Regions from separate parts of the Homo sapiens genome. Here all the other regions are linked to region 1. The links come from fine-mapping of genetic effects on gene expression. A gene starts in region 1. Each other region holds a variant in brackets. All regions are shown on one strand. Distances are between the middles of the regions.

What was found.
Region 2: its variant is fine-mapped to the expression of NOTCH2 in whole blood (TOPMed, PIP 0.90).
Region 3: its variant is fine-mapped to the expression of NOTCH2 in whole blood (INTERVAL, PIP above 0.99). The same link has a PIP of 0.9 or more in CD4 T cells and regulatory T cells.
Region 4: its variant is fine-mapped to the expression of NOTCH2 in whole blood (INTERVAL, PIP above 0.99).
Region 5: its variant is fine-mapped to the expression of NOTCH2 in whole blood (TOPMed, PIP 0.97).

The regions. Positions count from the first base shown.
Region 1 is chr1:120,066,549-120,071,653 of GRCh38, forward strand. NOTCH2 (notch receptor 2) reads right to left here and starts at 3,114. Exons shown (of 34, transcript NM_024408.4): 1 at 2,786-3,114. The coding sequence starts at 2,858. It overlaps LOC101929178 (a long non-coding RNA gene), which reads left to right and starts at 3,280. Exons shown (of 2, transcript XR_254374.4): 1 at 3,280-3,463.
Region 2 is chr1:119,903,692-119,908,796 of GRCh38, forward strand. No RefSeq gene overlaps it. Among named protein-coding and RNA genes, the nearest start is that of ADAM30, 9.7 kb to the left of the region's middle. The variant A/T (reference allele first, on the strand shown) is at 2,491.
Region 3 is chr1:120,097,879-120,102,983 of GRCh38, forward strand. No RefSeq gene overlaps it. Among named protein-coding and RNA genes, the nearest start is that of NOTCH2, 31 kb to the left of the region's middle. The variant GTTTTCTTCCCCTCCTT/G (reference allele first, on the strand shown) is at 2,283.
Region 4 is chr1:120,155,560-120,160,664 of GRCh38, forward strand. It overlaps SEC22B (SEC22 homolog B, vesicle trafficking protein), which reads right to left. Exons shown (of 5, transcript NM_004892.6): 4 at 4,825-4,971; 5 at 1-1,633. The coding sequence ends at 1,479. Among named protein-coding and RNA genes, the nearest start is that of SEC22B, 18 kb to the right of the region's middle. The variant T/C (reference allele first, on the strand shown) is at 2,606.
Region 5 is chr1:120,942,219-120,947,323 of GRCh38, forward strand. All of the region lies in intron 2 of LINC00623 (long intergenic non-protein coding RNA 623), which reads left to right. It overlaps RNVU1-4 (RNA, variant U1 small nuclear 4), which reads left to right and starts at 382; the gene lies at 382-545. RefSeq lists enhancers at 1-320, 69-378, 310-1,013. The variant C/T (reference allele first, on the strand shown) is at 2,172.

The DNA.
Region 1 (5,105 bases):
TGTGATATTTTTAAGATGTATTGTAAGGCTGCTCTGAACCATCCAAGCATATCCCACTGAATTTAAACATTCTCTAAAGGTCCTGAAGTCAGCAACTACAATCCAGGTGAACCAAAAGTTGCTCCTCTATGTCATAGAAGCCTACAGGAGAGGCAGTAGGGTGGGAATGGAGCAGAGAGATCCCAAGAAGTTATGGGTAAATATTTTTTAAATCTAAACATTCAGAAAAATAAGAGAGACTAGGAATCACTCTCCTCCTCCTCTCCACCACACCAAAAAAAAAGGAATAATAAGAAAGTGAAAGGAAAAATAGTTTTAGGTTAAATTTCATCACCATCTGAAAGAAAATTACTCCGATTTTGTTTAAGCAAGAGAAGAATTCAGCTGAGAAATTATCTAGCAGGCAGCAAAATCAGGGAGTCACTTCCCATTGCAAAGCAAAAGAAAACAAGGAGCAAGAGGATGGTCCTGGATAGCTGTTTAGACAATCAGACATACTGCTAACATCTCCTTGCCTTAGAAACTCCGTGATGTTTAAATTAACAATTGGCCACAAGCCAAACACAGGAACACTCAAAAGTTTAGAAGGGTGTGCTGCAACTGGTACCTTAGCAAAACACAATAATAAATTAAGAGGATTCAAGAAGCCTTCACTGTAGACTCTAAGAAGATTTAAGATTTGTACCGAGAAACGGCTTCTAAATCTCTTCTACTGCATTAGTTTAGCATCTAAAGAACACCTGTCTAAAAATCAAAATATCTAAATCCTATCCTTTGAGTCAACTTGACTAACACTCAACTTGACTACCTAAAAGCTAGCTAATAATCGCAGCACCTCAGCAGAGCAGAGGTGGAGGGCATAGTTTTATGCACTGAGATCCTATAATAAAAGAAGCCCTATGTGTCAGAGTAATCCCATTTCTGATATCATATTATTTAATACTTAATTTTTCAAATCACTTTACAATTATATTTATTATTCCCTACAATTCTCTAAAGCAGGTTATTCCTTTAGTCCTGCTTCATAGGTGAGGAGACTACATATCATGAAGATTAAGTTATTTACCAAAACAAGTTAATGATAGACCAAGGATTATTACCCTCAGACTGTCTCATTGATCATACTCCTCTCTATCCTAAAGCTACACTTAAAGCTTTCACTCAAAGAAAAAGGAAAAGCAAAAACACCATCATATATGCTCTTTATTAAATGCTTCAGAAACAACGGCTCTGCTTCATCACTACAAAGCCTCCTGGTCCACTTCTGAAATTCTTAGTGACCTAGACGTGTACGAAATTTGAACTTTCCAAGAAGTATCTAGTTGGTGCTGAACAACCCAGTACTATTTTCGGGTGATAAATAACCTTGTTCTCTTTTTAAACATCTGCGATTGACATGTCGACTGACTGTTAACAATGAACAAAGACCATATTTTTCTGAAGCTCATCATCTTCCTAACCTTTTCTTTGAAAACAGATGTAGTTCATGTACTAGTTTTTTGGTGAAGGTAAAAATCTTTATTCAGATTAGGCTCAGAAAAAGAAGGGGCTGCTTTCCGTTCAACAAATATGCACAAGACAGCATCCCACTGGGAGCATCAATCTCAGAAGCAGTAAAACACAGCCTCGGCCCTGAAAGGACTTTCTGAACACCTTTGGAGTGTCATCCGTTTAATATACATTATTTTAATTAATCCTATTAGCTGGATAATTTCTTTCCCATTTTATTGGTGAGTTCATATAGCAGAGCTGGATTTGAATCCAGGATTACAGAGCAGGGCTCCAAAGCCCAAGTTATTTCCACTAAAGGGTCTGAAGAAATGTAGAATCTAAAAGTGTGGGTGGGATGGGGAAGATATGATTTGATTCCCTTTCCTTGGTCCAACCGTGTTAGAAACATCCAACCATAAAGAAGCTTTCTAAGGAAGCCCTTTGAATTAACGTATCCACTTTTTCTCACCCGCCCGTGCCCCACCCCCAGCCATGCCAAAGGAGCAGCAAATGCTGCTGCCAGGTTGGAGGAATTGGTGATCGTCACACCACATTCCTGGGTCTGGACACAGCCTGAAACAGCAGCAGAGCTCCGCGCCTCGGAAAGAATAACAGCAGTTGAGATTTTTAAATCATGTGCCTCAGCATGCAGCCACACCAGTTGCCCTACTTCTCCTGCCTCCACCTTTCAAAGACGCGAGCAGCACACACGGCTCCCCCGGACTTTCGGTGGGGTTGGAGTGTCAAAACTCAGGCGCGCCGCAAAACCCCGTCCCCATCCAAACCAAGCCCACACACCCGGCCCATGTGCCGCCCCCTGGCAAAGGCGAGGCTGGCTGCGACGGTGCAGGCCGTTTGGCTTGGCGGCCCTGCCCCCGCTCTCCACGCCAGAATCTGGCATTCCTTCGCTCAGCCCCTCCGAGGCCCGCCGTCGGCTCTCGCTCGACCCCAAGAAACGCGGAACCTGAAGGGCAAAACTGCCCACCTCCCTGCACCCTGGCACTACGAAAAAGGAGTTTCTGAGACTTGCTGCCGGCCTCCCTCCTGCCGAGGAGGCGTGTAAGGGGTCCCGGGCCGCGGGGAGCAGAGGCGGCGGGGAACCCCGGCGGTTGGCGGGGCACCACGGGAGGGGCCCCCGGCGATGTCCAAACTCTTGGGAACCCAGCGAGTGGCCTCGCTCCGCGCCGGCGGCCGAGCCTGGCCTTCCCACACAGAGAAGGACCGAGGGGGAGAAGGGTCGCCCCAGGTGGCAGCCCCGGGCGCCGCGGACAGCGCCCCTCAGCCCGATACTCACCATGCGCGGGGGCCGCGCAGCACAGCCAGAGCGCCAGCAGCGCCCACAGCAGAGCGGGGCGCAGGGCGGGCATCTTCTCGGTCGCCTCCTCCTCCGCCGCCGCCGCCGCCGCCTGGGCAGATCCACATGGGGAGGGGGTCCCGATAGAGGAGCCCCACTCTCTCCTCCCCTCCTCCTGCTTCAAAGGCTCAGGCCCTGGCGCTACGCTCCGAAGCCCAGGCGCAAATGCCTCGACTCCCCGCGCCCCGAGTCCGCCGCTCCTCGGCCGCCGCCTCAGCCGCCGCCCGAAGTTTGGCTGAAACTTTCTCGGGTGTGCAACGAAGCAGCCTCGTGTGTCCTTCCGCCTCAGCCGCCTCCTCCCACCGCAAGCCCCGCCCCACTGTCGCCGCGGCCTCGGCCCCGCCGCCTTGGGCACCCAGGGGTTTCCCGCAGGAAGAAGCGCCGGCCCGAGCTCCGCGCGGAGGGATCTACTACGAGTCACTGGCCCCGTCCGCATCCTTCTCCAGCGGCCCCGGGGGCCGCCGCGCCTTAACTCGATCAGGGCTGCAGCGGCTCGCTGGCTTGACCAGTGCAGAAGGGGCGTGGGGGTGAGGGGGGTGGGGTAGGACTCTGAACTTCAAGCACTGGAGTTTGCCGGGATCGTGAACTTGCAGGGAGAGGCGGTCCTCATCCAGTGAGGTCTGTATCGCCACCTACACCCACACATCCACACACTGCTTTGCTAGCTAGAGGAATGCTCTGGAGTAGGACCAGTGCTGTCAAAGAAGGAAAGTGGGCCAAGGCGCCAAAGTCCATTAAAAAGGAATAGAGCCATCACGGAGTGGTGCTGCCCCATTCATTCATTCATTTGTTCATCCGTGTAGCGAATATTTCTTAAGTGCCTTACTTTGCGTAGCTGTGTGCTTGGCAGTGGGATGATACCAAAGATGCACAAGCAACTTTGAGTACCAAGACTTTGCCGCTGTGGGCTGGGGGATTCAGGGAAGGCTTTCCCAGAGGAGCTGGGATGAAAGCAGGATCTTGAAAGGTCAGTAAAATTTGTATAAGACAAGGAGACCAGCTAAGCTAAGGATATTCGTTGTAACACTGTAATAGCAAAACCTTGAAAACAACATAAATGCCCACCCTTAGAGGAATGGATGAATAATGTATGGTATATTTATAAAATGAAATGCAACACAGTAATTGAAAAGACTATAGCTATTTATGTCAATAGGGATAAATCTTAAAAACTAAATGATAGTGAAAAAACTAATCACAGAGGGAGACAAAGTATACCATTTATGTATATTTTTTTCAAGACAATACTACACATTATCTGTGGATGCATATATATAGATATAGATATTAAGAGACTATAACCAGAATAGTAGTTACTTCCAGGGCAGGAGAGTAGGGGGTGTGATCAAACCTGGGTACAAGTGGGCTTCTAAGAAAAGAGCTAAAAGTAAGAACAGCAACAATAGTTGTATGGACATATCATTCCAGGAAAGAGCCCTCGTGAAAGCAAAGGTACAGTCAAAAGAGTAAGTAAATGAGTTCTGTCTCTGTTAGCAGTGAGAGGAGTCAAGGACGGAAAGGGGGTTGGGACCAAATTATGCAGCCTTGAATGGCAAGCTGAAAGGGTGGGGAGGCAGCTACCTCTTAGGTCACATAAAACTATTGAAAGTTTTTGAACAGAGTTGAGATTGATGGAAAGGAAGATTGCTCTGATAATTCTGTAGAAAATTGATTGTTGGGGGAGCAAGAGGTGAACTGGAGCCCCAGGACCAGTCAAGAGTTGGTGAACAGTCCAGGCACAAATTTAAGAAGACCTGAACTAATAAGGTAGATTTCAGAAGGAATGAATCCGAGACAATGTTAAAGAAACAGAAAAAAAAAATGGAGGTGTGACTAATTGGATGTGGGAGTTTACAATCCTGTTGGGATGGGAAATCCTACCCATAGAACCTCTCCCTGACTCCTATAGGATAAAATTCAAACTTCTAAACATGGTACATACAAGGCCTTTTCGTCATTGGGCCCCATCTCCTGTCCTCCCTGCCCCTGTTGTGAACTTCACACAATAACAGTATTGACTAACTTGAGATTCCCCCAAACATATCTTGCTGTTTCTGTCCCTGTATCTTTTGTTCCTTTGGCTTGGAATGACTCCTGTAGTCCCCTTCCCTCCTCCTCTTAATGAACTTCTAATCATAATTCATCCTTCAGTCCAAAGAAGGCTTTGCCGACACCGCAATAAATTCCTCCCCCTAACAGACAGTCCCTCCACTGTCTTCCACTGCCGCTTCTTTATCTTAACACCGATACTTATTTTTCA
Region 2 (5,105 bases), 160 kb before region 1:
TGATGCTGAAATTAAGAGTTTTGAGGTTATTGGGATGGAATGTGCATGTAAGAACAAAATAAATTTTGGGACACCAGAGGCAGAATGCTACAGTCTGAATGTTTATGTCTCTCCTAAGTTGAAATGTGAAAACTTAATCCCCAATGTGGTGGTATTAAGAGGTGGGCTTTTGGGAGGTGATCAGCAGGGTCCCATGAGTTATGAATGGGATTAGTGCCCTTAAAAAGGAGCCTGAGGGGGCTTCTTTGCCCCTACTGTCATGTGAGGACCCAGGAAGAAAGCGTCGTCTTTGAAGCAAAGAAAGAAATAGTCCTCACCAGACACTAAATTTGCTGTTGTCTTTATCTTGGATTTCCTAGCCTCCAGAACTGTGAGCAAGATCTGTCTTCAATTTATATATTACCCAGCGTGAGGTATCTTGTCATAGCAGCCCAAATGGATAGTTGGTAAAATAAATTGAGGAAATTATTACTAAACCTGTCAGGGAGCTATTATTTCTAGGGTGAAAGGAAGGGGCTATACTCAGGAAAAGAAGGGAGGGAGGAAGAAGGGTATGCTTGGTGTAGCTTTTGCTGGGGTGTTAGCAATATATTTCTTGACTGCTAGGGTTTGCTGTACATATTTGTTAAAATAGTCCTGAAAGTTTTATCCTCACTTCTTTATATGCTGTATTTTACAATTATTAAAGAAAAAACTAAGACAAATTAAATTTAACAAAGTTTGTGCAGGAAACAGGTTTTAGAACTGGGAAGCATTCTGAACCAAAAATTGTTCAGAATACCCCCACCTCCATCATGGTGAGCTATACTTAAAAATCAGGAAACAAGAAATGACATACAGGGATTAAATGATTGGTACAGTTTGAGGTTTGTTTTATTTGGGCATAATCTGGCAATTTAAAGCCTGGGATTTGCTGAAGGTTCAGCTACTATAATTGGCTGAGACTCAGTTGGTTTGTTACAAGGGTATACTCCTAGGTTAGTTTACAACTTGTTTACACATCAAGCTAGAATACTTTCACTATGTTTGAAGGCAACATATAGTTGGAGCATGTTTTATTTCGTTTTTTTAACCCATTTAGCCAGTCTATATCTTTTACGTGGAAAGTTTAATCTGCTTACATTTAAGATTATTATTGATATCTGAGGGCTTATTCCTGTTTTTATTTTATCAATTGATTTTGAGTTTTTTGTATATCCTTTGTTCGTTTCTTTCTCTTTTATCGTTTATTATTGTGGCTTGGTGATTTTCCTTAGTGGTAACATTTGAGTCCTTTCTTTTCTTTATTTGTGTGTTTGCTCTACCAGTGGGCTTTATACACTCATGTGTTTTCATGATGGTAGATATCATCCATTTGTTTCCAGGTACAGGACTTCCTTAATCATTTCTTGTAGAACTTGTCTAGTGGTGATGAATTCCCTCAGCATTTGCTTATTTGGGAAAGACTATTTCTCTTTCGTTTATAAATAACATTTTGGGTATAGTGTTCTTGGTTGGCATTTTTTCTTTCAACACTTTGAATATATAATCTAATTATCTTCTGGCCTATAAGGTTTCTGCTGAGAAATGTGCTGTTAGTCTGATGGGGATTCCCTTATAAGTGACTAAACACATTTCTCTTGCTCTTTTTAGAATTCTCTGTCTTTGACTTTTGGCAGTTTGACTATAATGGGCCATGGAGAAGACCTTTTTAAATTGTATCTATTTGGAGATCTATGAGTTTCCTGTTATCTGGATGTCTAAATCTCTTGCTAGACTTGGAAAATTCCCAGCTATTGTTTTGTTAAATAGGTTTTCGATCTTATATTTTCTCTCACCTTCTGAGACACCAAAAATTTAAACATTTGGTTGCTTAATAGTATGCTATATGTCATGTGGGCTTCACTCATTCTTTTAAATTCTTTTTTCTTTATTTTTGTCTGGCTGGGTTATTTCAAAAGATCTGTCTTCAAGCTCTGAAATTCTTCTGCTTGATCTAGTCTATTATTGAAGTTTTTGAATATATGTTTTAATTCCATTCAATGAGTTTTTCAGTTTCAGAATCTGTTTGGTTCTTTTATGTATGACCTCTATCTCTGGTAAATTTCTCATTCATACCCTGAATTGTTTTTCTAATTTCTTTGTATTGTTTACTTTGTTCTGTTGTATCTCACTAAGCTTTAAAAAATCATTATTTTGAATTCCTTTCTGGGATTTTGTAAGTTTCTTTTTAATGGGAATCTTTTGCTGGAGAATTATTGTGTTCCTTTGAGGATGCTATCTTTCCTTGCTTTTTCATGTTTCTTGTGTCTTTACACTGATATCTGCACATCTGGTGTAACAATCACTTATTCCAATTTTGTGAATTTGCTTTCATAAGGGAGGACTTTTTTCTGAGGATGTATCTATGGTATTGGTTGTGTAGGGCACTTTGGCTTTGATTCCAGGTGCATGCGGTAGTGTAGTCTCTGTATGATTTCTTTGGCTGTAACCAGCATCAGTAGCAGTGGC[A/T]TAGGGTGTGGTTGTTAGTGGAGGCTGTGGTGACATTCTGCTAGGGATGGGGACACAAAATGGGCCAGTCCTTGTGTCCCAGTGGTGGCAGTGGCAGGCTGACAATGCCTGTTGTTGAGCCCCAGGGTAATGTGCACTGGCACCAGTGTTAGCAGATCTAGACAGGCTGGTTCTTGGGCCTCCAAATGGCTTGCTTTGGTGCTGGCAGTGGCAGTGGTGGGCTGGACAGGTTGGTGGGTCTTTGGGCCCCTGCACAGTGAGCAAGGCATAGATGATGGCAGTAGCAGTAGTGGGACAACCTTCTTGTTTCCAAGCAGTCTGCACTGGGGTTGGCAGGGGCAGAAATTTGCTAGTTGGGCCAGTCCCCAAGCCCGTAGGTCATGCATGCAGGTGGGTGCCAGCTGTGGTGGTAGCAGCAGGTTGGATGGCCCATCCTTAGGCTCCTGGAAGGAGTGCTCACATGCCGAAGGTGGTGGATGGGGCAGGGTGATCTCCAGGCTCCTGAACAGTATGCCTGGGCACTGTGGGAAGAGGCAGAGCTGGGCCAGGCAGGCCTGTCTTCAACAACCACTGGCAGTGTGTGCAGGTGCTAGCTGTGGTAGACAGGGGCAGAGTGATCCTGGATGTGATGGTTAACATTGTCAACTTGACTGGAATGAAGGATGCAAAGTATTGTTTCTGGGTGTGTCTGTATGGGTGTTGCCGAGGAGATTAACATTTGAGTCAGTGGACTGGGAGAGGAAGACCCACCCTCAATCTAAGTGGGTACCATCCCATCAGCTGCCAGCACAGCTAGAAAAAGCAGGTGGGAGAAAGTGGAAGAAGCTGACTTGCTGAGTCTTCTGGCTTTCATCTCTCTCTCCTGCGCTAGATGCTTCCTGCCCTTGAACATCAGGCTCCAGGTTCTTCGGCCTTTGGACTCTTGGACTTATACCAGTGGTTTGCTGCAGACTCTCAGGCCTTTGACCACAGACTGAAGGCTGCACTGTCGGCTTCCCTACTTTTGAGCTTTGGACTTGGAGTGAGCCACTACTGGCTTCCTAGCTCCTCAGCTTGAAAACAGCCTATTGTGGGATTTCACTTTGTGATCGTGTGAATCAATTCTCCTTAATAAACTCCCTTTCATATATGCATATATCCTATTAGTTCTGTCCCTTTGGAGAACTCTCACCAATACACCAGGTCCCTGGCAGAATGCTTGGGTGAGGGTGGCAGCAGATGCCCTGTGACCCTGCTGCTAGTGGGCAGGGTTGTTTTCAGTGGCAGCAACCATGGGCAGGTGGTTGGGGAGTGCATGCTTTGGCCCTAAGTGGAAGATGTGCATGAGGTAGCCTGTCCTTAGGTTGCTTATAAATGTGTGGTGGCCAACTGCTGGGGGTGGGCAGTGTCACAGCCAATGGCTTACACTTTGGGCCTGGCAGTAGCAGCCAACAGCAGCAACCAGCAGCAGCAGCTGTGGGTGGAGGATATCAACGGGGGACCCAGGATGTGGAGATGCAGAGGCTTTTGAGCCTCATGACAGGATTCATTCTGCTGAGAGATGGACTCTCAAAATGGAACCTTGCTGTAGCTGCTTAGGATTTGCCAGGGGTGGTGTGTGCGGGACCCAGCGTGAGCTCCCATTCTAGAGCAGTAGAGTTGTATGGTCTTCAGGCAGCTTCCTATGTTAGTTTTAAGGTCCTCAAGGGTCGAGGAGTTATCTCATGGCTAGGATTGCAAGAATCTACAGTGGGAATGTGGACTGCTGGGGGTCTCTCACTTACCCTTTCTCCACACTGGAGAGCCTCTCTGGGCTCCCAGCTGGTCATGGCTGAGCAGGCTGTCTCACTTCTCTCTTTCCTTGCCTTAGGTGTTTCTGGCCACTTTTCTGTTGAATTCCTGTGTACTCTTTTAGATGATCTAGTTGAAGTGTGATTATCTTCTTGTTATTTTTGTTCTTCTTTGTAGAAAACACAAGTACCAGATGCCTCTAGTTAGCTATATTGAAGCCCGTCCACTGGGTTTGAATTTTTTTAAAAACACAAGTACCACATGCCTCTAGTTAGCTATATATATTGAAGCCCCTCCACTGGGTTTGAATTTTTTTAAGGTTATTGGGGTGTGTGTCTGTGTGTGTGCGTGCACGTGTGCACTATTGTAAATGTGGTCTTTTCAATTACATCCTGCAAATGGTTCTTCTGTGAATTGGTTTTACATCATTTTATTTACTGAATCCCTAATAGTTTATGGTAGTTCTCCTCTGTTTTCTTCAGTTGTCCAGGCATATAGTCGTATTAACCTTCTAACTATTATATGTAAAACCCTAGTTTTATATGTAAAACCTAAGCACAGTAACACACATTCTGATGTAACATGATTAGTGGTTGATGCCTATCCTCTTCCAAATCCACTTTCTTCAAACTTTTCTAGGAGGCAAGGGAAAGGGGTCATGGAAGAGAGAAAAAGGAGAGAGACAGAAATGTGAGACAATTGCATGACAGCGGGACAAGGGCTGGGTCCCTACATCTCAGTGCTTGCCCAGCCTAAATTTTCTCAAATAGGCACGTGCAATAGACAGGTGATGTTTTACAATGAGGCTCTTGAAGCTCTCAAAATTATCGGCCAGGTTACAAAGC
Region 3 (5,105 bases), 31 kb after region 1:
TAAAGTGCTGGGATTACAGGTGTGAGCCTCCGCGTCTGGCCCCTATAATTCTTTTTCCCTAAGCCAAAGCCTTTTTCAAGGGTCTCTTATGTTGCCTGGGAACCTCATCACTAACAACTCTGAGTCCTAATGTTGACAATCCCTGCTTCCCAAAGCTGTGCACTGCTCCCTGGTCCATTCTTTGAATACTATTGCCAGAATAGTATCGTCTCCATATTATGACTCAATTTTTACTCTTTTTGTCTTAAGGCATTTTACTCTCTTGTGTTGTGCAGTTATAATCCAAGTATGAAATCCAATTAACAGAATTTTATCATAGATGTGCTAGAAGCTACAAGGATTTGGTTTGTTTCTTTCTTAGTTTTCAGTTAGCCAATCTTTTCTGAAAGAAATTGAAGCCACCCTCCTCTTAGAAAAAAAATCCTTCTTTCTTCATTTTATTTTCATGGGCTGCTTCTAGGAGTATATTGAATTCTGCCTTCCATATTTCTAATCAGGCTTCACAGTTTCTTCCTTCTCTGTCCCTTTCTCTCTGTTCCTATTTCTGCCATATCAACTAAGGCTTTCCTTAGCTCTTGCTTTACCTATAGCAATACTACCTACTTTGTCTTCTTACTTACTACACCAGTTTATATTGGCTCTGATCGTTATTATCTATGGGGGCTGAGGCAGGTTGCTTTCACTCTGATCCTCAGTTTCCTCACCTGTAAAGTGGCCATATTAGAGTATGGACCTTGTAAGGGTGGTATAAATGTAAGCAAATATCCTTGGTTCTCCTGAGCTATAAATCCAAATGTGATCATGTTAATTAAAAATCTTAATAGTTCTTATCCTTCCCCAAATATTTATGAGAAATTCATGAAATGGATTAACTCAATAAATATTGAGCACTCTGTGTGAGTCACTGATGTGGGCTCTGGGGACACAACAATAAACAGACAGACCTGGACACTGCTTTCTTGGCATTTGCTTTTTGGGATAGGAAAAACGATGATTAAAAAAGAAGAAAAAGAAACAAAAATGACAAAACATGAGATGATGATAAGTGCTATGGAAAGAAAGTCGGGGTAGGCAGAGGGTAGGAAGGCAGAGGGGTTGCTCGGTTTTACATAAGGTGGTCAGGGAGGGCCTCATCGAGTAGGTGTTTTTGTACAAAGACATTTGGGTGTCATTGGTGGACAGATCTTACCTGTGTTCTTAAGCCAGTGTTGTCATCATGTGTATTGTTATAGTTAGCCAGACACCAAGATGCTGGCACTGACAGCACCACTGTGAGCTAAAAGTCCACAAACGGTGTCAGCGTGGAGCCCTGCACAGTTACCCTAGCCAATAATGCTTTTGAAAAACAGGAAGTAAGAGAGTTGACTTTTTCAGCATTAATGCTCAAGGTAAAGTGTTATGACTGAATTAACTGAAATCAACTACTATTTCCTTAACACAACTTGGATAAAAACCTTTTTCTGCAATCACAGCTGGCACTGTGGTGCCGGTTTTATGGGAAATTGAGGGCTATGATAGCCCCTGTGATGTCTGTCAGCATCCTCTTTCAAAGTGGGAAAAGAAAAGCTCTCTTCCTTAATATAACACTGAGTTACCAGTTACTGGGCGATAGGCCCTAGAGCATTAAAGAGTTTCATGGCTCTTTCCATGACTCAGAGGCCCTTCTTTGTTTTCTTCTGGGAAGACACATGCAAGGAAGCTGGGTTAGGCCCTTCCCTGTGACAGTCAGACTTACCATGACCTTCCAGGTCTAAAGCCCAGTCTTACCATTACAAACTCCTTCCTCAACCAACGGTGCTCTCTCCAGGGGCCCCACCATTCCTGCCAGCACTCTGCCTACCTCTGGAACTGTCTCCAGACATGCCCATGAATGCTGAAGACCCTACTGAGGCAAATATTTCCATTTTGCCCCCAGCAAACTTCTCAGCCTCCTTATAAATCAATGGATGCCAATCATTGCTTAAAGGGAAGAGACGTTGTCTAATTCTGCATCACAGCCATATCTGTCTGAATTCTGACCCATCTGGGACATTGTATTGCACAAGAAATAGAAAAATAATTCATGAAGTTCCTAGCATAATTCTTCTGTTTAGTAGGTATTCAAAAATTGGTAACTATTGTAATTACTTACGTAGTAGTTTAATGGGCAATTGTAAACATATTGTTTATAATTTTTGTTTTTTTCAAAATGTTTTACAAAATCATGTGTTATATAATAAGAAGCAAATTCTTTCAAAAAAAATAAAACACACACACACACACCAAACTCTTGACACATAGCT[GTTTTCTTCCCCTCCTT/G]TTCATCTAAACTTCTCAGAAAAGTGTCTTGCACTCACTATTTCCACTTCCTCAACTTGCTTCTATCTAGCTTCTGCCCCGATCATTCCTCTAAAAATTGATCTCACTGAAGCCACCAGCTGCTTTTGAATGTTCTTCCCTCAGGAGTATGTTGGTGGGTCTGGGAAGGGAAGGCACCCTCAGGTAAATAATAACCCAGAGCAGAGTGGATTGAGTAGAAGGGAGAGGACAAGGATACAAGAGGTGAGGCAATGTCATCCAAGTTGAAAGAATGGTGCAGAACCAAAGTTGGATCCAAACACTCACCTTGTCCAAGAGCCAGGTATTCCAGTTAGAAGTCTGCTCACCTGAGCAGAAGAGAGAGTCCAGAAACAAGCCAACTCCAAACAGGTAATAAACTGAAAAACCAAAGTAGTCCCAGAAGGAAGAGTGCAAGGAGTTGGAAGGCCAAGAGGAATTCCACATTCAGCAACTTACCAGCTGCATTTGGCTGGGCCTTCCTGGGAATATGTGATGAAACGTCCAGATCTACAATGCTATCTCTTTCAGAAATGAGAGATGGGCTCCCAGGGCACTCCTATACTGGATATGTCAACACAGTGCCTGCCACACCCAACTTCCTCTTTGAGATGAAAGTGCCCCACCCACAGCCCCCTGCTTTGAGAAGCAGAGGTAGGTTGTTCTTTGCCCAGGGATGGCTCCTGATTGGACCAATGATTGGCCCTTGACATTAGGGGCTGCCTTCCCAAAAACCAGGGCTTGAATGGAAAAGGTAAGTTTGATCAATCAGATTCTCTCCTTCTGGGATTTGAATTGGGAAACATGGATAGAAAGAAGCAGTTAGCCATGGGAGCTGAAGCTGAAAGGATGGCATACAATGGAGTGGAGCCATGGAGGATTATAGCAAACCAAAACTATGAGGAAGCAGAACCATGTGATAAGAAGGCAGAATTTATGAATAAGCAGCAATTCTGAGGTAGAGAAAATACATGAAAAGTAAACAGAATTTTTTAGTTGGAATAAGACAGCAAGAAGCAAACCTGCAAAGAGTCGCAAGAAATGAGAAGTGGTGCACAATTGTCATTAAGATCCTATCATCTGGCTCAACTAAGAGCCAGTTTCAGATCACCCGGATTTACTAAGGCTCCTGTGCTCTTCATCAGATTTACCCCAGCTTTCCAGGTTTCCATGCTGGTATTTCTTGGGCTCCTACTATGAGCTAGGCACAGTTCTAGGTGTTTGGGATCTAAGGGCAAATGAAACAGGAAAATACTTAAACCCCTCATAACTTGCGGCAGGGTCTCTGTTTCAAAGGGCCAAGTTAAAATAACTACTCTTGCCTTCACCATTTCCCATGGTCCAGTTGGTGTCATTATGTTGTCATTATGAGTCTACACCCACTTTGGCATGCAGTTCATATATATCACCTCCACTGCTAGGGTGGGTAACTGGAGAATCAGGAAAAGAGAAAATAAAAAACAGAAGTTGGGAGATGGGACATGAAGGAAGTCAGATGATGTATGATAATGGCAGCAGAGTGGCTGAATGCCCAGGCTTTAAATTAACTTGCATTCAAAATTTTGCTCTATCACTTATTCATTAAGCGGCTTTTTTGGCAGGTCAGTTTTCTCAGCTGTGAGCTAGAGATAAAATAGCATTCTCCTCATTGCATTTTTTGAGAATTAAGTGAGAAAATATATGCAGAGCATTTAGCATAGTACTTGGCCCATAGTAAATGCTTGATAAATGGTAACTATTTTTGCTGATGCTATTATTATCAGCAATCCTCTAGTTTTCCCATTAGTTGGATAGAATGAATGGGCTGGCGGGGAATTAGATGGCATCCTATGTCAAACCTCTCTGAAGGCTGATGCCAGCCATAACATAGTAGGCTCATTAAAGCTCCTTCTAGTTGGTGCATTCCTTCCCGGGTACTGTCTAGCTGCAGGAATATCAATAATACCAAGAAGAGGGCCAGGCACGGTGGCTCACGCCTGTAATCCCAGCACTTTGGGAGGCCGAGGCGGGCGGATCATGAGGTCAGGAGATCGAGACCATCCTGGCTAACACAGTGAAACCCCGTCTCTACTAAAAATACAAAAAATTAGCCAGCCATGGTGGCGGGCGCCTGTAGTCCCAGCTACTCGGGAGGCTGAGGCAGGAGAATGGCGTGAACCCGGGAGGCGGAGCTTGCAGTGAGTCAAGAGATCGCGCCACTGCACTCCAGCCTGGGCCAAAGTGCGAGACTCCGTCTCAAAAAATAAAAAAATAAAAAACAATAATAATAAAACCAAGAAGAGGTGTAAAAAAAACACTAAGGACAAAAACCGTTGTATGCAAAAAAAACAGTTCTGGAGGGCAGGCAATAATAATTAGTGAAAGCAAAGTGTGTAGCAGTGATATTAGCCAGAGCAGTCAGTTGTGTGGGGGAGGCAAAAAAGCACATTTATTTCTTAAGCACTACTTTTGTCACCTGTCTAGGGGTGGTGGGTATGTGGATGTAGACCTGATAGGCCCAAACTGAGGCATAGCTGAGGGCTGTGGTTGGAAAGCAGTGCTTTGAGAGACCATGAAAGTAGAAGCCCTCTTTTACCTATCAGGGTATAAATGACTGGAATGGGTGGAGGAGCAATGCAGGGAGGGAAGAGGGCAGAGTCAGGGAAGAGGTCAAGAGGGGCAGACCTCCCAATGACTTGGGCGGCTGAGGTGGGAGGATAACCTGAGCCCATGAGTTTGAGTTCAGCCTGGGCAACATAGCAAGACCCTGTCTCTATAACAATCAATCAATCAATCAATCCAGGAAGCGG
Region 4 (5,105 bases), 89 kb after region 1:
TTCCTTACCAGGAATCAGGATAGTATCTTTGATGATCCCTCAGGGTTATAAAATTGCTTACTGGTTAAAGTTTTTTGCCAAAGATATTAAGAAATAAAAAGTTCGCTCATTTTCCTGTGCAATTTAAAGAAATATTTGCAGTATGTACAGGAATTTTAAGTTATATTGCAGACCCTGGCAATAATATTTAAAAGGCCTATTTTCCCCATTAAAAAATTCTACCTCAGAAGGTAAAAGGAAATCTCCATCATCCCTGAGCAGAAAAGGAAAAAATCATGGGTACTTTAATTAGTTAATAGAAACCACTGTAAATGAGTTATCTATCTCCAGAACATTCTCAGAGAATTTACACGAACTAAAACAGGAATGAAGTGCTCTCAGAGACTTTTTCTCAGGTAAATGTATTTAGTAGTTTGAGTAGTTGATCTGCAAAAACTTTAACTTTAATTAACTACATAGATGAATATTTTTTATTTTGAAATTTGAGAATGTCCTAAGAGGATGTCTACAGGATATGAAACTACTGGGTGCAGGAAAATTTTTTAAATGTTAGCAAATTGTGGCAAGAGGAAAACAAACAGTGGAGAAAACTGTGGTAGAGAAAGTAAAGAAGGGGCAGGAGAAAGCTGTAATTATAACCTGGGCCTGCCTTTGTTCTCATGAAGCCAGGGGCCTCTCCATATCCTATACTTGCTCTTACGCTAATAACAAACCAAATGCTGCAAAATAAAAGTAATAATGACCCAAACTAATTTAAGTCTTTTGTTTAAGGAGTAAATGAGAGAAACATTTTAGCTTCTTAATCAAGGAGTGCTATAATTTCAAGGCATCTTAATATAATTCACTTACCCTAAAGCAATTGTGCAATAAGCAAATTATAAAAGGAAAACAACAAAGGTTAACTTTCTACAGGGGCCAATAGACAAGATCTGTGGAGCACAGCAATTAACCTTCACATACTGGAGTCTTGTTTAAAAGGCCATCAAAAACTCAGATTACTGAAAATCACAAATGTCACCAACAAAAGGAATGTTGATTAGAGTCAAAAAAAAAAAAAAAAAAAAAAACACCTTCCCAAAGGACTGCCTTCTTTGAAGGAATTTCAGAATGTTGCTAGCACAGGTTGACTAAGTTAAATCTCATTGATGGCTCCATCAGAGAATGAGAATGCCCCAGCCAGTGCTGTTTTTAAAATGCACTGGGAGGGAAAAAACGAAATTAACAATCTACTATTCCCTAATATATATGGCTTGGCACCCAGAGAAAGCCTCTGCCCCCGAAAGAGACTTTCTACATAGGGTTAAGCTTCATTAAATGAGGTGCAACCTTTCATTTTCAGGGCATCTCTTTTCTTGCAAGGTCTTTAGAGGCAGAAGTTCCACTTGGATTCTAATACACATCTCTGTGAGCTCAGTTTCCTGAAAATATACACCTACTGGGTTCTAGGTTCTCCCTTACCAGTGACTGTATTCATTATTTCACAGCCACCAGAATCGGACATACACTATTAACATGATGAAAAATACAGCTACTGCTGCAAGTTTGGCATAAGTGGAACGCATGTTCAAGTACTTCGCATCCTGGCGGTATTTCTTGGACAGACTGGACAAATTGTTAGCCTTTGAATCCAATGCTGTCAAAGAGGAAAAAAGGAAAACATTAATTAGTCCCTGGAAGTATTTTACCGAAAGTATTAAGGCAAACCAAAATGAGCAGCACTGCAACAACCATGAATCTTAAATCATCATTTTTATTTTAAGGCTAACATTGCATATACTAATTAACTGATGATGCTGATCAGATGATGTCTGAATTTTTGAGGCTATATAGTAAGGTGGTTAGAAGTGCAGGTTCTGGCCTCAGACTCTTTGGTTCAGATATCACCTGTACAAGTTATGTGACATTGGTCAAGTCATGTAACCTATTTAAAACCTAGTTTCTTCATCTATAATTGGGGATAATAACAGTAACTATGTCATAAAGTTGTATGTACATGAGATTGCCTGTAAAGTGAGCAACAATGCCTGCACATGATAAATTATAATAATTATTACATGTTAATAATTATTATCTTCATAATCTTCTAATGGTCTGAATCATATTCTCTTATATTTTGAAAAACGATAATGATAACCCATGTAAAACAAACTCAGATAACCAGAAAATTCAATTAACCAAACACAGTCTTAAGCTATACTTCAATGATGACTGCTAACATTTCTAAGATTCTCCACATAGTAGAGACTACTATGAAGTTAAAGCTATCAGGATTTATATTTCAATAGACATAGGAAAGTTGTAACTAAAATACAATAAGTACTACAAAAAAAAACGCAAGTAAATTAAGCTTTTTAGTATTTTCTGGCAAGTTTTTTCACCCCCAAGGACATTTGTAATGTTGTTATCTTCTTATAACAGTTAACTAAACACTTAGAGAAATAGCCAGATAGACACAAGCTAGACCATATTAAAATATAAGGCATATTTTAATAATAAACACAAACTCTCCATTTGACATAATAAATTCTGATCAAACTTTTCACTTCTTGAAATTTCAGAAAAAACTATTTTGCAATCCGGTTGTTTCTTCCTTAAAGAATGCTTT[T/C]GGAATATTTGGAGTTGCTTAATAGAGACTGGTTTTGATTGGGAAACATGGCGTTACTTAATAACACAGGCATGACAGCCACGTCTGAATTAGCAACTGATCACATGAGTAAGAAAAACATCTAGTCACGGAAGAAGAGTCAGGGACTGAGAAACAACCATGACAATGCACAGGGCATCTTTTTACAGAGCCTACAAGAATATACACTTCACTGGACAGGGATTTTAAATTATTGTGTTTGCTGCTATATCCTGAATGCCCAGAACAGGGCCTGGTATATAGTTAGTGCTCAATAAACATTTGCTAAATGAATCTAAATCTGCTGAGAATAACTCAGCAGAGGAACAATTATTAGACCCTATGAAACAAGTCATAGTTGAGAGAATTTATATATGAACGTTTTGAAATACAGGATAACATAAAGACAAAGCTATTGCTTGGAGAAGTCATTTAACAAATATTTATGTGACAGGCACCATGTGAAGTGCTGAGGATACAACAGTGATCAAAATATACATGATCCCTGCCTTTAAGGAATTTAGAGTCTTGCATGAGTGATACAAGAAAAATTCCTGTGCTAGTCTACTTTATCCCATATAGGAATTGCAAGTCTGTATGACAAAACCTTACACACTCACTCACTCAAAATTTGGTATTTAAAGAGTGTGAAGGTAAATGAATAACTGCTCACTACTCAAAAAAAGGTTAAAGTTTGTAGTTCATAATAAAAGAAAACTCACTTACTAATGAATATATAGCATGGCTGAATTCAAAAATACTTATTAAGGAACCTATTTGTGACCATTTCTGTGGGGGATATATAAGGAGTATGTGAAACAGATATAAAATACATAAGCACTATCTTTAAAGAGCTTACATGTCCACATTAAACACTTAGGTAATATTTAAATATCAGGTAAATATACATATACTTTTAACCTAATTTTACCTAATTACCTACACTTTTAAAATTATATAAAGGGCTGGGTGTTGTGGCTCATGCCTGTAATCCCAGCACTTTGGGAAGCTGAAGTGAGTGGATTGCTTGAGCCCTGGAGTTTGTGACCAGCCGGAACAACATGGCAAAACCCCATCTCTACTAAGAAAATACAAAAATTAGCCAGGCGTGGTGGCACATGCCTGTAGCCCCAGGTACTCAGGAGGATAAGGTGGGAAGATCGCTTGAACCCAGGAGATGGTGGTTGCAGTGAGCCAAGATCGTGCCATTGCACTCCAGCCTGGGCAACAGAACAAGACTCTGTCTCAAAAAAATATACGAAATTATATAAAAATATTTAATTATCCAAATATGTTTGCCTACTTTAATATAAATATATGAAATATATACTTATGTTATATGGAAATATATTTAATATATATTAAATATATATTTAATATGGTAAGAGGTATTTAATAAATATATTTAAGGTAAATTAGGTAAACACACATACATGTAATATGTGCTAAAACCATTATGTTATTAAGTGCTTTAGGAGTTTAAAGTACAGAAGAGATTAATGTGATACAGGCTATAAGGATCAGAGAAAGGTTCTTTAAAGAGACAGTTCTTATGGAGGTCTTACAGAACAGGTCCAGCATAAGGCAGAATAGACCACTAAGGATAGTAAAGAAGCTGGTGTGGCTACAGAAGAATGTTTGTGAACTAGAGAATGACAGACATTTGCATCTTCCTTATTTTCCATATGTAGAGCACAATGCCTTACAAATAACAAGCTCTCAATAACAATGGCTGACTGACGGAAAAATAAGTCAGACTGGATCTTATCTTGTAGTCCCAGATTTAAAAGTTTTTCAGAGGAATGCCTTGATGAAAATGGCATTTTATAAAGATTGATCTGGCAGCAGTAAAGTCTCCCAAAGAGGCTACTCAAAAAACCACTGCAATACATCATTGAGTTTTCTCTCATTCATTTCCCTTAATTTATACAAGTTATATAATTTAATTAATTTTGTGAATATCTTAGAAATAATCATTGCTTCTAATATGGATGAGTCCTTTACACTGTTCCAACTCAACAAAAACTAATCATGCTAGGAAAAAAAATATATTGGAAGCATTGTAATGTAATGTACTTCTGGGAGATAAATTCTTAACAGTTCTAGGTAGAATCTAATAGCATAAAAGGCACTGCAAAATAAGCTATCCTTGTCTATGGAATGAGAACCATTTCTTCATAAGACTCATTGCTTTTAGATACCTGAGAGTGCTTCTCCTCGTTGTAACACTTCTTCAATATTGGCCACCATGATCCTCTGCACATCTTGCAATTCAGTGTTGATGGAGCCTAGATTTCTTCGAGCACGACTGTCAATGTAGAGCTTCTTGGTTTTCTGAATGAAAGTATCTAGAATGATGAAGAAAACTGACCATTTCTTTCATGGCCATCAAAGTACTGAGGTAGGAGATTAAAAGTTCTGAGTTGGCCAGGCGCGGTGGCTCACACCTGTAATCCCAGCACTTTGGGAGGCCAAGGCAGGT
Region 5 (5,105 bases), 880 kb after region 1:
GGGCGGGGACAGGAGAGAAAGAAGGGACAGGCATAAGTCACTTCTCCCGCCGGCTCCGACAGCTGGTTGCTCCGCTGAGGGGCGTTGGGTGAGGCGGAAGAGCAGACGGGGATCCAGAAGGCGTTGTCGGTGACATCACGGAGAGGGCGATTTCTATGTAGATGAGGCAGCGCAGGGGCTGCTGCTTCGCCACCTGCTGCTTCGCCACGAAAGAGTTCCCGTGCCGTGGGAGTAAGTCTGGGACCTCTGGTCGGACCGGAGAGTCGCAGCTGTGTGTTAGGGCTAGGATGGCTCCTGGATGCGCGTGACGCAAGTGACCTTGCGTGTAAAGGGTGAGGCATATGAGGCTGCGGCGGGGCGGAGGGGCGTGAGCTTATACTTATGTTTATCTGGCAGAAGAAATGTTATGATCACGAAGGTGGTTTTTCCAGAGCAAGGCTTAGCAGTTTTACTGTGGATGTGCTGACCCCTGTGATTTCCCCGAATGTGGGAATCTTGATTACATAATTTGTGGCAGTGGGGAACTGTGTCTGTGTTTTTCCCTGGGTTGTTGTCGTTTTAAAAGTGGATTTTGTTTGCTGTGGAAGCATATACAAGGCGTTAGTATAAACTAATAAACAGGTCTTTGTTCCCATCTGTAACTTACTTTCAAAGTAAAGATTTTGCCAGGTAGTGGTTGGTTCTCACGCTTGTAATCTCAGTAGTCTGTGAGATGCATTGATAACTTTATGTTAATACCGCTCGAGCTCTGGAGTTTGATGTCAGTGTGGTCAAATATGGTGGACCCGTCTCTACTAATCTCTTAACTTTTTTTTTTGTTCTATAGAAATAAAACTAAGCTTTTCTTTTCCCTACGGGAGCCCATTGTAAACATTTATTAACAGCAAACAGTCCACTGGAGTGCATGGCGGGATCCCGGCTTACTGCAACCTCTGCCTCCTGCCTTCAAGCTATTCTCCTGCCTCAGCCAGAGAATACTCGATCTCCTAAGTAACTGAGATTACAAGCGCAGGCCACTAAAAAATTAGGCCCGGCTAATTTTTTGAATTTTTGGTAGAGACAGGGTTTTACCATGTTGGCCAGGCTGGTCTTAAACTCCTGACCTCAAGTTATCCGCCCGCCTCGGCCACCCAAAATGTTGGGATTACAGGCCTGAGCCACCGCGCCTGGCCTGTTTACAGACTTTACAGACAGATTTTGTTTACAAGCTTTACACGCACGGTTCAGTTGCAGTTAGTGTATATTATGCTGGGCCCAAGACAAATGTCTTTTTTTTTTTTTCCCAGTGTGGCCCAAGGAACCCAAAATTTAGACAACCCTGCTCTAGAGGGTTTGATTCATGTTTCCACTGGGTTATGCTTATTGCCTGTAATTCCATTTGATATTTTCCAAATCTGATTTTTTGAAAAGCGTTTTCCTGAAGCACCCTAAAGCTTTCCTAATAATATGGGAACTTAAACCAGATTGGATGTAACAAAACCCAGCTGGGATCCTGCAACTTCTAACCTTAATGTTAGATCAAGAAGCAAAACACCCACCAGTCCAAGGGTCAGGGAAGATGAAGATCATGCCTGAGCTGTAACAACGCCCTTCCCAGTATACAAAAGCGTGTAACAGCCACTTGAATTCTATCTTCCAAGTGTCTCCTGTTGCCCAGGCTAACCTAGAGCTATCTAAAGATGGCAAATCTGGGAAATGTGCATTCAGCTTGGCAAAACTGATACATTACAAATCCACCACAGTCCACTTCTTCTCAAAGTGGCATCAATGTGCACCTTCCTCCTCCTCCTTCTCTTTTCCTCCTCTTCCTCATCCTCTTCTTTCTCTTCTTCTTCCTCCTTTTTCCTCCTTGTAAAGCCATACTTAAGGTTCAAATAAAGACAATAGGAAAATCATACTTTTTCTCATTCAGTGAAAATATGCCAACCCTTTCCCCAACAGGATAAAGTCTTTTATTTGTCTTTGAATGATGTTCACTCCTTTTTTAGCTAGATCACATTCCATATTTGCTATCCTGTAACCTAAATATTGAGATTTCTAAAAGTTAACTATTAATGAATATGATAGCGAGGATGATGGAAGATGAGAATTCTCAAGAAAAGTATTGGTTAATATATAACCAAATGTATTCATCTCAAAATAATGAAGAAATACTCCTAACTATTACAAGT[C/T]CTCATTTCTGCAACTGTCACTGGCCCTAGCTGGTATTTGTAACTATCTTCACATCTTGCTCTCACAGCCATTTCCTTTGGGCCTGGGCCAGTGGACGTGAGCGTGGGAAAGACCAGAACCCGCGGTGCTCCCCACCGCACTATCCTCGGGTCTCCAGAGGTGGGATACACCGGGCAGGGGCCTTTGCTGGATTCTAAACCGGCTCTGGGGATACAAGAACAGCTGCCTTTGAGAAACAGTTCAAGTCTCTATATTCCAGACTTCCTAGTAGGACTAAACGCTTAATGTTCATCCAGGAATTCATGGTTCTCCTAAAACCCTGCGGTGGAATGCCTTCCTTCACTGAGCATTTATTGGGCACCTACTAGGTGCTAGGGTGGCTCTGGGCGAAGGGCTGCAGCCTGTGCAAACTCCAGGTCCCTTTCCTGTGGATCCCACCTCTGAGGGCCCGAGGGGGACGCAGTGAGGACACCACGGGTTCTGGTCCTTCCCACGCGCGCGTCCGCTGGCCCAGGCCTGGCGGAAATGACTGTGAGCGCAAGGTGTGAGCGGGGCTAAGAATGGGAAAGCGAGTGGCTTTCGCCGGAGAAGCTGCAGTTGTCACCTGTAGAGGGGCCAGCGACTTTTGAGAGGGTGAAGAGCAGGCGGGGGAAGCAGTGAAGAGCAGACGGTGAGGAGCAGGTGGCCCTTTGGCCGTTGGAGTCCCCCAGCTGACTCTGCCCGGGTAGAACGTCCAAAGTGCCCAAAGACTCGACTCTTGGCTTCATTGTCTCCCGTATTCTGGGTTTCTGGAGTGCGCGGGATTGGACAGGCATCAAATATATGAGATTATCTGCAGCCAGAGGTTAAAAAGCCATTTCTGGTATCAGCAAATGAGTTTAAGACACAAGCCATTAGAGTCTCTGTGGCGCAATCGGTTAGCGCGTTTGACTGTTAACTGAAAGGTTGGTGGTGCAAGCCCATCCAGGGATGGCACCTTTTGCTTAGGCAAGATTCACAGTTTCTGTTTAAAGACTTTAATCCTGGGAATCCTCCGGACCTCTATTAGCTTTGAATCAGATGCCAAAATATGCTGCGTGAAGGCTCAAGTTCCATGGAAGTTCCTAAAAACAGGAATATTTCAGCAAAAGTAATTTTTCAATAGAGCCTGAGCCTGGGGCTTCAGAGCTTACGCCAGAGCCACTGCACCTATTTCATCACCTCTTGAAGCTGGGTTTTTACAATTGCACATTCCTGGAAATCCAAAACTCCCAATAATTGAAAACAAGAAAACCCCAGTCTTCACTTGTAGTGAAGCCTCAATTTCTGGGTTGAAATCTTGGTTCATTCATGACGTGACTTTTAAAACGTTACTGGATTTTCTGTACCTCAATTTCTTCGTCTATAAAAAAGAGCAGCCGGGCACGGTGGCTCACGCCTGTAATCCCAGCACTTTGAGAGGCCCAGGCAGGTGGATCACCTGAGGTCAGGAGTTCGAGACCAGCCTGGCCAGCGTGGTGAAACTCCGTCTTTAATAAAAATATAAAAATTAGTCAGGCATGGTGGCGGGCGCCTGTACTCCCAGCTACTTGGGAAGCTGAGGCAGGAGAATCACTTGAACCCGGGAGGCAGAGGTTGCAGTGAGCCGAGATCACGCCATTGCACTCCAGCCTGGGCAAAAGAACGAGACTCCTTCTCAAAAAATAAAAATAAATAAAAAATAAAAAAGAAAGAAAGAAAGAAATTTTTCCTGGCACATTTCTATATGTTCCATTCTGGATGACTTGCTCTTCAGGCTTATCCCACAGCTGTTATCATAATATCTCTCTTTACTGCACCATCTTGGGATTTCCATCGCCTCTCTCTTGTTAGATCCCCTGCTTCATGGATCTCAAGGGGGTTCATTCCTCACTCACTTCTTCCTTTTGATGATGCATATCCTCCAAAACCTCCTATAAAGTGGTTACCTTAGAAATAAACTTTTTGAGACACTGCATGTCTGAAAATGTCTTTTATACCCATAAAATTAATTGATATTTTACTAGATAGAGATACAAAAAGATAGGTGGAAATAATTTCTCTCTGAGATTTTTGAAGGCACTGCTTTTTTTGTGTGTGACAGAGTCTCGCCTCGCTCTGTCGCCCAGGCTGGAGTGCGGTGGTGGGATCTTGGCTCACTTTCAATCTCCACCTCCCAGGTTCAAGCGATTCTCCTGCCTCAGCCTCCCCAGTAGCTGGGACTACAGGTGCCTGCCACCATGTCCGGCTAATTTTTTTATTTTTAGTAGAGATGGGGTTTCACCATGTTGGCCAAGCTGGTTTTGAGAGCGACCACTCCTCATATTGTCTTACACTTAATTTCTTGTTTGCTGAAAAAGTGGAGGTTGAAAGAATGGGCAGAAGTGAAAATCACGCTCAGACAACTGGGTGCCACATTTCGGGCCTGGTTGTTAAAATTCAACCGCTGACCTCACCGATTGTGCTGTCTATAAATTCCAGACATTGTATAAAAAAGCATTATGAAATTCCCTTTTCTGTCCTGTTTCATTCTGATTACCAGTACATGCAGCCCCCAGTCACGTACCCCTTGCTTGCTCAGTTGATCATGACCCCCCCAACACAGCCCCTTTAGAGTTGTGGGCCCTTAAAAGGGACAAGAATTACTTATTTGGGGAGCTCGGTTTCTAGGATGTGAGTCTACCGATGGTCCCAGCTGAAAAAAGCTCTTACATTCCACAATCGGGTGTCTGAGGGATTTTGTCTATGACTCCTGCTACAGTTTCAAACTCCTGACCTCAAGTGATCCGCCTCCCTTGGCTTTGCAAAGTGCTGGGATTACAGGCCTGAGCCATGGCTCCCGGCCCTTGTTGTTTACTGTTTTCCATAGTCATTTCTGAGAAAGAAAAAGGTAAGCCTTTTCTGCTCTGAGCTAGAGCTGGTCTGACAAACACCTA